Linked DNA regions of Homo sapiens. The protein of the gene in region 1 purifies or fractionates together with the protein of each later gene. This does not show direct contact. Each region holds a gene or a part of one and is shown in the gene's direction. Other genes may lie near its edges.

Evidence for each region.
Region 2: the proteins of NAGS (region 1) and TCP11L1 purify together in Homo sapiens (affinity purification with mass spectrometry; one large-scale study listed by BioGRID and IntAct). This does not show direct contact.

What each region holds. Positions count from the first base shown.
Region 1 is NC_000017.11:44,002,930-44,007,421, forward strand, and holds the start of NAGS (N-acetylglutamate synthase, mitochondrial), read left to right. Parts: upstream 1-1,692; 5' UTR 1,693-1,734; coding exon 1,735-2,160; exon of another isoform or gene 2,161-2,382; intron 2,383-2,707; coding exon 2,708-2,982; intron 2,983-3,094; coding exon 3,095-3,308; intron 3,309-3,599; coding exon 3,600-3,780; intron 3,781-4,393; coding exon 4,394-4,492. UniProt on the Homo sapiens protein: Plays a role in the regulation of ureagenesis by producing the essential cofactor N-acetylglutamate (NAG), thus modulating carbamoylphosphate synthase I (CPS1) activity.
Region 2 is NC_000011.10:33,066,898-33,070,702, forward strand, and holds part of TCP11L1 (T-complex protein 11-like protein 1), read left to right. Parts: intron 1-1,789; coding exon 1,790-1,962; intron 1,963-3,805.

The sequences.
Region 1 (4,492 bases):
AACCTTCCATGTTACCAAGAAAGCAGGCAAGCTATGCAGATGGAATATAATGGAATGTAATAACATTGTTTTCCTCTCACTTGATTCTTTTTTAATTTTGATTTTAATTTTAATTTTAATTTTTTTGAGACAGGGTCTCATTCTGTCGCCCAGACGGGAGTGCAGTGGCACAGTCTCAGTTCACCGCAATCTCCTCCTCCCAGGCTCAAGTGATTCTCTGGCCTCCTGAGTAGCTGGGATTACAGAAACATGCCACTACTGCCTGGCTAATTTTTGTATTTTTAGTAGAGATGGGGTTTCACCATGTTGGCCAGGCTGGTCTTGAACTTCTGACCTCAAATGACCCACCCGCCTCCTCACTTGATTCTTAAGGCTTATGGCAAGTGATACTGGCCTAGTTACAGACCTAACATGGATAAACTTTAAGTTTAAAAAGGTTAAAGAGGGCCGGGCGTGGTGGCTCACGCCTGTAATCCCAGCACTTTGGGAGGCTGAGGCAGGTGGATCACGAGGTCAGGAGTTTGAGACAATCCTGGCCAACATGGTGAAACCCTGTCTCTACTAAAAATACAAAGATTAGCCGGGTGTGATGGTGTCTGCCTGTAATCCCTGCTACTCAGGAGGCTGAGGCAGGAGAATCGCTTGAACCCAGAAGGCGGGGATTACAGTGAGCCGAGATCGCAACACTGCACTCCAGCCTGGGCAATAGGGTGGGACTCCATCTCAAACAAACAAACAAACAAAAAAAAAAAAAAAAAAAAGGGTTACAGAGGTCGAGTGAAGTAGCTCACACCTGTAATCCCAGCACCTTGGGAGGCAGAAGTGGGAGGACTGCTTGAGCTCAGGAGTTCACGAACAGTCTGGGCAACATGGTGAACACCCGTCTTCAAAAAAAATAATTTTTTTTTAAATCAGCTGGGCATGGTGGTGTGCATTTGTGGTCCCAGCTACTAGGGAGACTGAGGCAGGAGGATCATTTGAACCTGGGAGGTGGAGGCTGCAGTGAGCTATGATTGCACCACTGTACTGCAGCCTGGGCAACAACAGAGTGAGACCCTATCTCAAAAACCAAAATAAAAAACTCTATTTTATTTTATTTTTACCAGATGTGATATTCGATAAAGAAAAGCATTAACACTAAAGTATTATAAGTTTTGAGGGGTGTTTTGAGGATATCACAGAATTCCTCAAGCTGGTACCCAGTGACTGGAGTTTGGCAAACCCTGGTAACCTCATGGTCATTCATTAGGATCTTTTTTGAGCTCAGGCAACAGGACAGACAAGGCCAGCACCACCCGCCCCCGCCCTCCCACTGCCCCCCTTCTTCTACTCTTTCCAGCGCCCTCCTTCCAGCCCCCTGCCCAGCCCTGTGCTCAAAGCCACCTACAGTCCCTTCTTCTCTGGTCAGAATGCCAATCATCCAAGGCCCTGCAGACTCCCAAAGCCGCCCCTGGAACCTACCTTGGCAGCAGATTAAAGACAACCCGCCACATTTAGTCTCGGCCCCATGACCGATAGTGGGTTCAGTTCCTCCAGGGGCGGGGGAGCCTAGTGGCCCCGCCCCCTGACTCATGGCCTGACCCTCCTCAAACGCACCCAGAGGAGACTCCTGGTCCCCTGTCCGGACCCCGCCCCGACCAGGTCCAGCCCCGCCCAACGGCAAGTTAAGAGCCCCCCAGTGCCAGACGCTCCAGACAGACTGCCACTCTTGGGGGGCAAGAGTTGGTTGTCGTCATGGCGACGGCGCTGATGGCTGTGGTTCTGCGGGCAGCTGCTGTAGCCCCGAGGCTGAGAGGCCGGGGAGGCACTGGGGGCGCCCGAAGGCTGAGCTGTGGCGCGCGGCGGCGGGCGGCGAGGGGCACCAGCCCGGGGCGCCGGCTCAGCACCGCCTGGTCGCAGCCCCAGCCCCCGCCCGAGGAGTACGCGGGCGCGGACGACGTCTCCCAGTCGCCCGTCGCCGAGGAGCCGTCGTGGGTGCCGAGTCCCAGGCCCCCGGTGCCCCACGAGTCCCCAGAGCCTCCTTCGGGCCGCTCGCTGGTGCAGCGGGACATCCAGGCCTTCCTGAACCAGTGCGGGGCCAGCCCTGGGGAGGCGCGCCACTGGCTCACGCAGTTCCAGACCTGCCATCACTCCGCGGACAAGCCCTTCGCCGTCATCGAGGTGAGCGGAGCCCGGCGTGGGCCGTGACGCAGCGAGGGGATGGGGTTGTGCGGCCACCTGTCCTCAGGCATGGCAGGATACGCTGCGGGCTCTGCGCAGCGGAAGCGGGAAGGAGCCCGGCAGGGCCCAGACCAGCGCCGCCGGGAATGGGAGAGGCCGTAAGCTCCTCCGGAAGCCTCCCGCCCAGCCCGAGTGAGGATCCTGGGGGACCCCACCCGCCAGGTGTGATGCTCTGAAGAAGGCCCCCAACATGGGCGCAGTTAGGGGTTCAGAAGGACCTGGACAGGAGCCGCTTGCACTGCCCCTCCCCCAAAGATGTCCCGGAGTCCAAGGTCGGAGGGAGGAGGGCGGGAGGTACCCCAGCGTGAGACAAGGGAGTGGCAAGACCCAACGGGGCAAAGGGCGGAGCAGGTGGGCACTGGTGGCCAGAACTGGGTCCTGACAGCTTCTGGAAGGGTAGGGTCACCGAGACGGCCCTGCAGGCCAGGCTGTGGGAGCCAGCGGCTCAGGTCCGTGTCACGCTCCTTGAAAGCCCACTCCTCCGCAGGTGGACGAGGAGGTGCTCAAGTGCCAGCAGGGCGTATCCAGTCTGGCCTTTGCCCTGGCCTTCTTGCAGCGCATGGACATGAAGCCGCTGGTGGTCCTGGGGCTGCCGGCCCCTACGGCTCCCTCGGGCTGTCTTTCCTTCTGGGAGGCCAAGGCGCAGCTGGCCAAGAGCTGCAAGGTGCTGGTAGACGCGCTTCGACACAACGCCGCCGCTGCTGTGCCATTTTTTGGCGGCGGGTCTGTGCTACGCGCTGCCGAGCCGGCTCCCCATGCCAGGTGAGTGCCCGCCCTGCCCGCCCAGGCGTCCTCAGAGCGTGCTACTCTGCCCGCCCTGCCCCGTCCGGCAGGCCTGGAGGGGGCCCTCTCGAGCACCACGTCTGGCCCACAGCTACGGCGGCATCGTCTCGGTGGAGACAGACCTGCTGCAGTGGTGCCTGGAGTCGGGCAGCATCCCCATCCTGTGCCCCATCGGGGAGACGGCCGCGCGCCGCTCCGTGCTTCTCGACTCCCTGGAGGTGACCGCGTCGCTGGCCAAGGCGCTGCGGCCCACCAAAATCATCTTCCTCAATAACACAGGCGGCCTGCGCGACAGCAGTCATAAGGTGCGGCCCTTTCTTTCACCTTCCCCCACGCCGGCGATCCGGGCCTTCTCTTGCGCCCCTCGCACTTCTCCCCGACGGGCCGCAGACTCACTAGCAAGCCGGGTGGGTAGAAAAGCCTAAGGGAGTATAGGGGAGGAGTTCAGCCCTGGGTGCCCAGATCTGCGCCCTCCCTGGCTAAGGACTCCGGGCGGAAGTAAGGATAAAGGGGTCAGAGAAAAGAGAGGTCCGTGGGGGTAGGGGGGCAGTCCGTGCCGGCTGTGGGCCAGGCTCACCCGCTGACTCCGGACACAGGTCCTGAGTAACGTGAACCTGCCCGCCGACCTGGACCTGGTGTGCAACGCCGAGTGGGTGAGCACAAAAGAACGGCAGCAGATGCGGCTCATCGTGGACGTGCTCAGCCGCCTGCCCCACCACTCCTCGGCCGTCATCACCGCCGCTAGCACGCTGCTCACTGAGCTCTTTAGCAACAAGGGTGAGGGCGGTGGGCGGGCCGGGGACTGGGTCCCGGGAGTGAGTACTGGCCGGGGCTGGGTGTCTGCGGTCAGGAGGAGCGGCTTCTCCTCCTGTCCAGGAGCCGTAGGGGGAGGCGGGGGGTGTCACAGCAATGGCTCCTGCTGCTGCCGAAACCCGGGGGAGGTGAGAGAGGAGGAGACCCAGTGTACTGGAAGGGAACTCCGAAGGAATTAAAGGAATGGGCGGGACTAGGGGGGAGAAGGAGGGGCCCCCCGGTGGGCGGGGCCAGGGGCGGGACCATAAGGGAGGTGTTCGACCGGGAGAGATGGGCGGGGCTTAGGTGGGTGGGCCGGGTCAGCGGCGGGAGACAGACTTCAAGGAGCGAGGCAAGACTAACGGAAGTGGGTGGGGCTCCAGGCGACAGGAGGAACTTGGGGCACAATCTCTGCCTGGGGAAAGCATCTCCTTGAATGAAAATCACAGACAAATCTATGCAGACCACTGAAATCATTTCACTGTGGAGGTCTCCCAAAGACGGAAATTGTCCCACCAGCGCCTGTCCTACCTGCAGTCCCCACCAGGCTGCGCAAACGGCCCTCCAGCCAGACTAGCCCCTCCCCATCCTCCTCCAGGGTCCGGGACCCTGTTCAAGAACGCCGAGCGAATGCTACGGGTGCGCAGCCTGGACAAGCTGGACCAGGGCCGTCTAGTGGACCTGGTCAACGCCAGCT
Region 2 (3,805 bases), on another chromosome or scaffold:
GAAAACTTCTCAAACTGGAACTGACCCTAACTGTGTTTAATGCAGCCTGATTGTTTCTACTCTATTCTTATTCCATTAAAAAAAAAAATTGGTTGCTACCCACTGAATTGCTTTCATAACCGACTAACAGTGAAAAGCAGAGCCCTAGAGGAAGGTCATGAGAGAAACCAGCTATATTCCTGCAGAGCTGCATGTATGTGGTTGAAGTGTTCTGCCCTTGCTTGTTCCCTGTAGGCGTTCTGTGCTCAGTGTAATGCATCATTTTCTTACCCAGCACGAGTCCGCATCTGCACGCGTGCAGGCTTCAGTGACCGCTCCTACCATGGAGTCATGTTGGGTGACTTCTATGGTTTCCAGCCTATAGAATATCTTTGAGTGGTTCTAAGTAAATGCTCTATCTAACAAGGTCCAATTCAGAGACTTCTTCAAGGGAAGTACCCCCTAAACATTCTCATCCTTACAAAATGGAGGAATTTTACTGCTGAATTTTCACAAAGCATGGCTGTGTTCAGTGCAGTGTGGGGCGTGTCCGTAAGTTGTGACTAGGGCCTCAACAGTTTTGACAGTCAAACTAGTTTGCTGAGAGGCCAGGAAACTTGTTTGCTCAGCTGAGGGCCTAGCCTGAGGCCTTTGCACAGGTACAGCTCTGGGCTGTCACCTAGGTCCCCTGCCTGGAGAACTACTCTGTCAAAGCTCCCGCTGAGGGTGGGATCCAGGTCAGTGCTTTCTTGGGAGCCCAGCCTTGCACTCCCATATCCTCCCTGGTCCTCCAGGGGTGGGCACAGAGCTGGTGCCAATGGTGAGTGCCAGGGCTTGCTCCCATGCCCCCCAGTAATTCTACATACAAAGGATCTAGACCCACAACAGAGGCAGTTACCTTCTCACAGCATGCCTGCCAGCATGGGGGCTCCCCACAGGCACCCTGGGAGAGCCTGGGGGACCCAGGGTATCCAGGTACTCTTTTTTTTTAACTTTAGGATTTCACTTTTCGTTATTCTTTTATTTTTTAAAAATTTTTTAATTTTTATATATTTTTTTATTTTTTTGTGATGGAGTTTCACTCTTGTTGCCCAGGCTGGAGTGCAATGACGTGATCTCGGCGTCCACTTCCTGGATTCAAGTGATTCTCCTACCACAGTCTCCTGAGTAGCTGGGATTACAGGCACCTATCACCATGCCCAGCTAATCTTTTTGTATTTTTAGTAGAGATGGGGTTTCACCATGTTGGCCAGGCTGGTCTTGAACTCCTGACCTAGAACTCCTGATCCATCTGCCTTGGCCTCCCAAAGTTCTGGGATTATAGGCGTGAGCCACTGAGCCCGGCCTCTTTATTCTTTTAAAATTAGTTAATACATGTGTATGTTTCAAAAATCAAAAGGTACAAAAGGGCATCCAATGAAGAGTTTCTCTCTCCCTCTTGTCCCACAGCTACCAAATGCCTGCTTTCTTGTGTATTCCTCCAGAGGTATATCAAGATATTCTGAGGTCATTCCAGGCTGATTTTATCACACAGAGGCTAGCAGGAAGTTGTGCTTTGGGTCGTTGGTCCTGGTATACTCTGAGCCCCTGCCCTTCCCACTGTCCTTTCTAGCAGAGGGAGAGAAAGAAAGTCCCCCTGGTCAGGTATGCACAGCCTGAGAGGTAAGGTGGCAGGGAAAAGAGTCTCAAATTGTCCCTTGAACACACAAATCCAGTTATTGGTGCCGTCATTCTCACCCGGGTGTGGGCGGTTGGAGCTGGTTAGAGGTGTATTTTACTTATAGGCCCTTTCTCCCCTCCTCTGCCCCAGCTCCTTCCATCTGAAGGACGTCCTCACTACCATCGGGGAGAAGGTGTGCCTGGAGGTGAGCAGCTGCCTCTCCCTGTGTGGGTCCTCTCCCTTCACCACGGACAAGGAGACCGTGCTCAAGGGCCAGATCCAGGCCGTGGCCAGTCCCGATGACCCCATTCGCAGGATCATGGGTACGTTTGGGGAAGGCAGGCAGCAGGGATGTGCCCTCTGAGGGGCTGGAGCACGAGTCCATCTGAAGAAACCTGAGGGCTCAGCTGGAGTTAAGGTGCTGATGGGTGAGGAGATGGTGTAATGAAGCACCACAGAGAGACCAGGGCCACCCAACAGATGGGCACAGGACCAGGCAGCCATCATTGTTCTAAGGGCTGCAACCTTGGAATCACTCTCCTGGGTTCACAAGCAGTGTCCCAGGGCAGCTTGGGCGTGTAACTTGACACTCGAGTTTCCTCATCTCTAAAGCAGGAATAAGGGCAGCAACCTTACAAGGTCGCTGCAGGAACTCCCTGGGATGAGAAGGTGAAGCGCTTTCCGTAGTGCCTGGCAGCACATAGTAAGTGCTCAGTAAATAGGAGCTGTTACGAAAAGAGCTGAATAGTAAAATGAAGATGTTATTTAAAAATACTATTAAAATATTATTAAATATTAGTATGTAATACTATTAACATATCAAATATAATAACTTAAAATGGTAATATTAAGATATTGCTATTTAAAATTTATAATAAACTTGAAGTATTAAAATATTTTAATGCATATTCTATAAAATATTTAAAATATTCTATAATATTAGCTATTAGTTATCACAGCAATGGCTTTATGAAAAATTCTGTTAATTAGCTCGACTTAATCATTTTGTAGTATATACATACATTTAAAACATCATGCTGTATGCTGTGAATACATAGTTTTGTTTGTTTGTTTTTGAGACAGGGTCTCACTCTGTCTTCCAGACTGGAGTGCAGTGATGCGATCTCGGCTCACTGCACTCCACCTCTGTGCTCCACCTCCCAGGCTCAAGCAGTCCTCCCACTTCAGACTCCCAAGTAGCTGGGACTACAGGCATGCACCACCACACCCAGCTAATTTTTTGTATATCTTCTAAAGATGGGGTTTTGCCTTGTTGGCCAGGCTGGTCTCAAATTCCTGGACTCAAGTGATCCGCCTGCCTCAGCCTCCCAAAGTGCTGGGGTTAACAGGCACGAACCACTGCATCCAGCCAAGATTTATACTCACAACCTTCATAGGGAGGCAGGAAAGTGCCTGTAAGTAGACCTGTGGCCAGCAAGTTGCTACTCATCCTGCTGCCTGGGTTGTTTTGTAATAGCCAGTTACCGACAGATTGAAAACCAGCCCTTAAGGGGAGGATCACTTAAAACCAGGAGTTCGAGACTATCTGGGCAGCATAGTGAGACCCCATCTCTACAAAAAATTAAAAAAAAAAAATTAGCCAGGTTAGTGACATGCATCTGTAGTCCTTGCTACTCGGGAGGCTGAGGCAGGAGGATCACTTGAGCCCAGGAGTTTGAGGCTGCAGTGAGCTACAATTTCACCACTGCACTCCAGCCTGGGTGACAGAGCAAGACCCTGTTTCTAAAAGAAAGAAAGAAAGAAAAGAAAAACCAGTCTTTGGGTAGGAACAATACAAAGATTTCTACTTCAGTGAGGCTGCCAGCCCTGGGAACCTTAGAGAACCAAACTAACTTAAGAATAAGGGTGCTGAGCACAGTGGCTCATGCCTATAATCCCAACATTTTGGGAGGCCGAGCCGGGCAGTTCACCTGAGATTGGAAGTTCGAGACCAGGCTGACCAACATGTAGAAACTCCGCCTTTACTAAAAATGCGAAATTAGCCAGGCATGGTGGTGCATGCCTGTGATGCTAGCTACTTGAGAGGCTGAGGCAGGATAATCGCTTGAACCTGAAAGGTGGAGATTGTGGTGAGCCGAGATTGTGCCATTGCACTCCAGCCTGGGCAATAAGAGCTAAAGTCTGTCTCAAAAAAAAAAAAAAAAA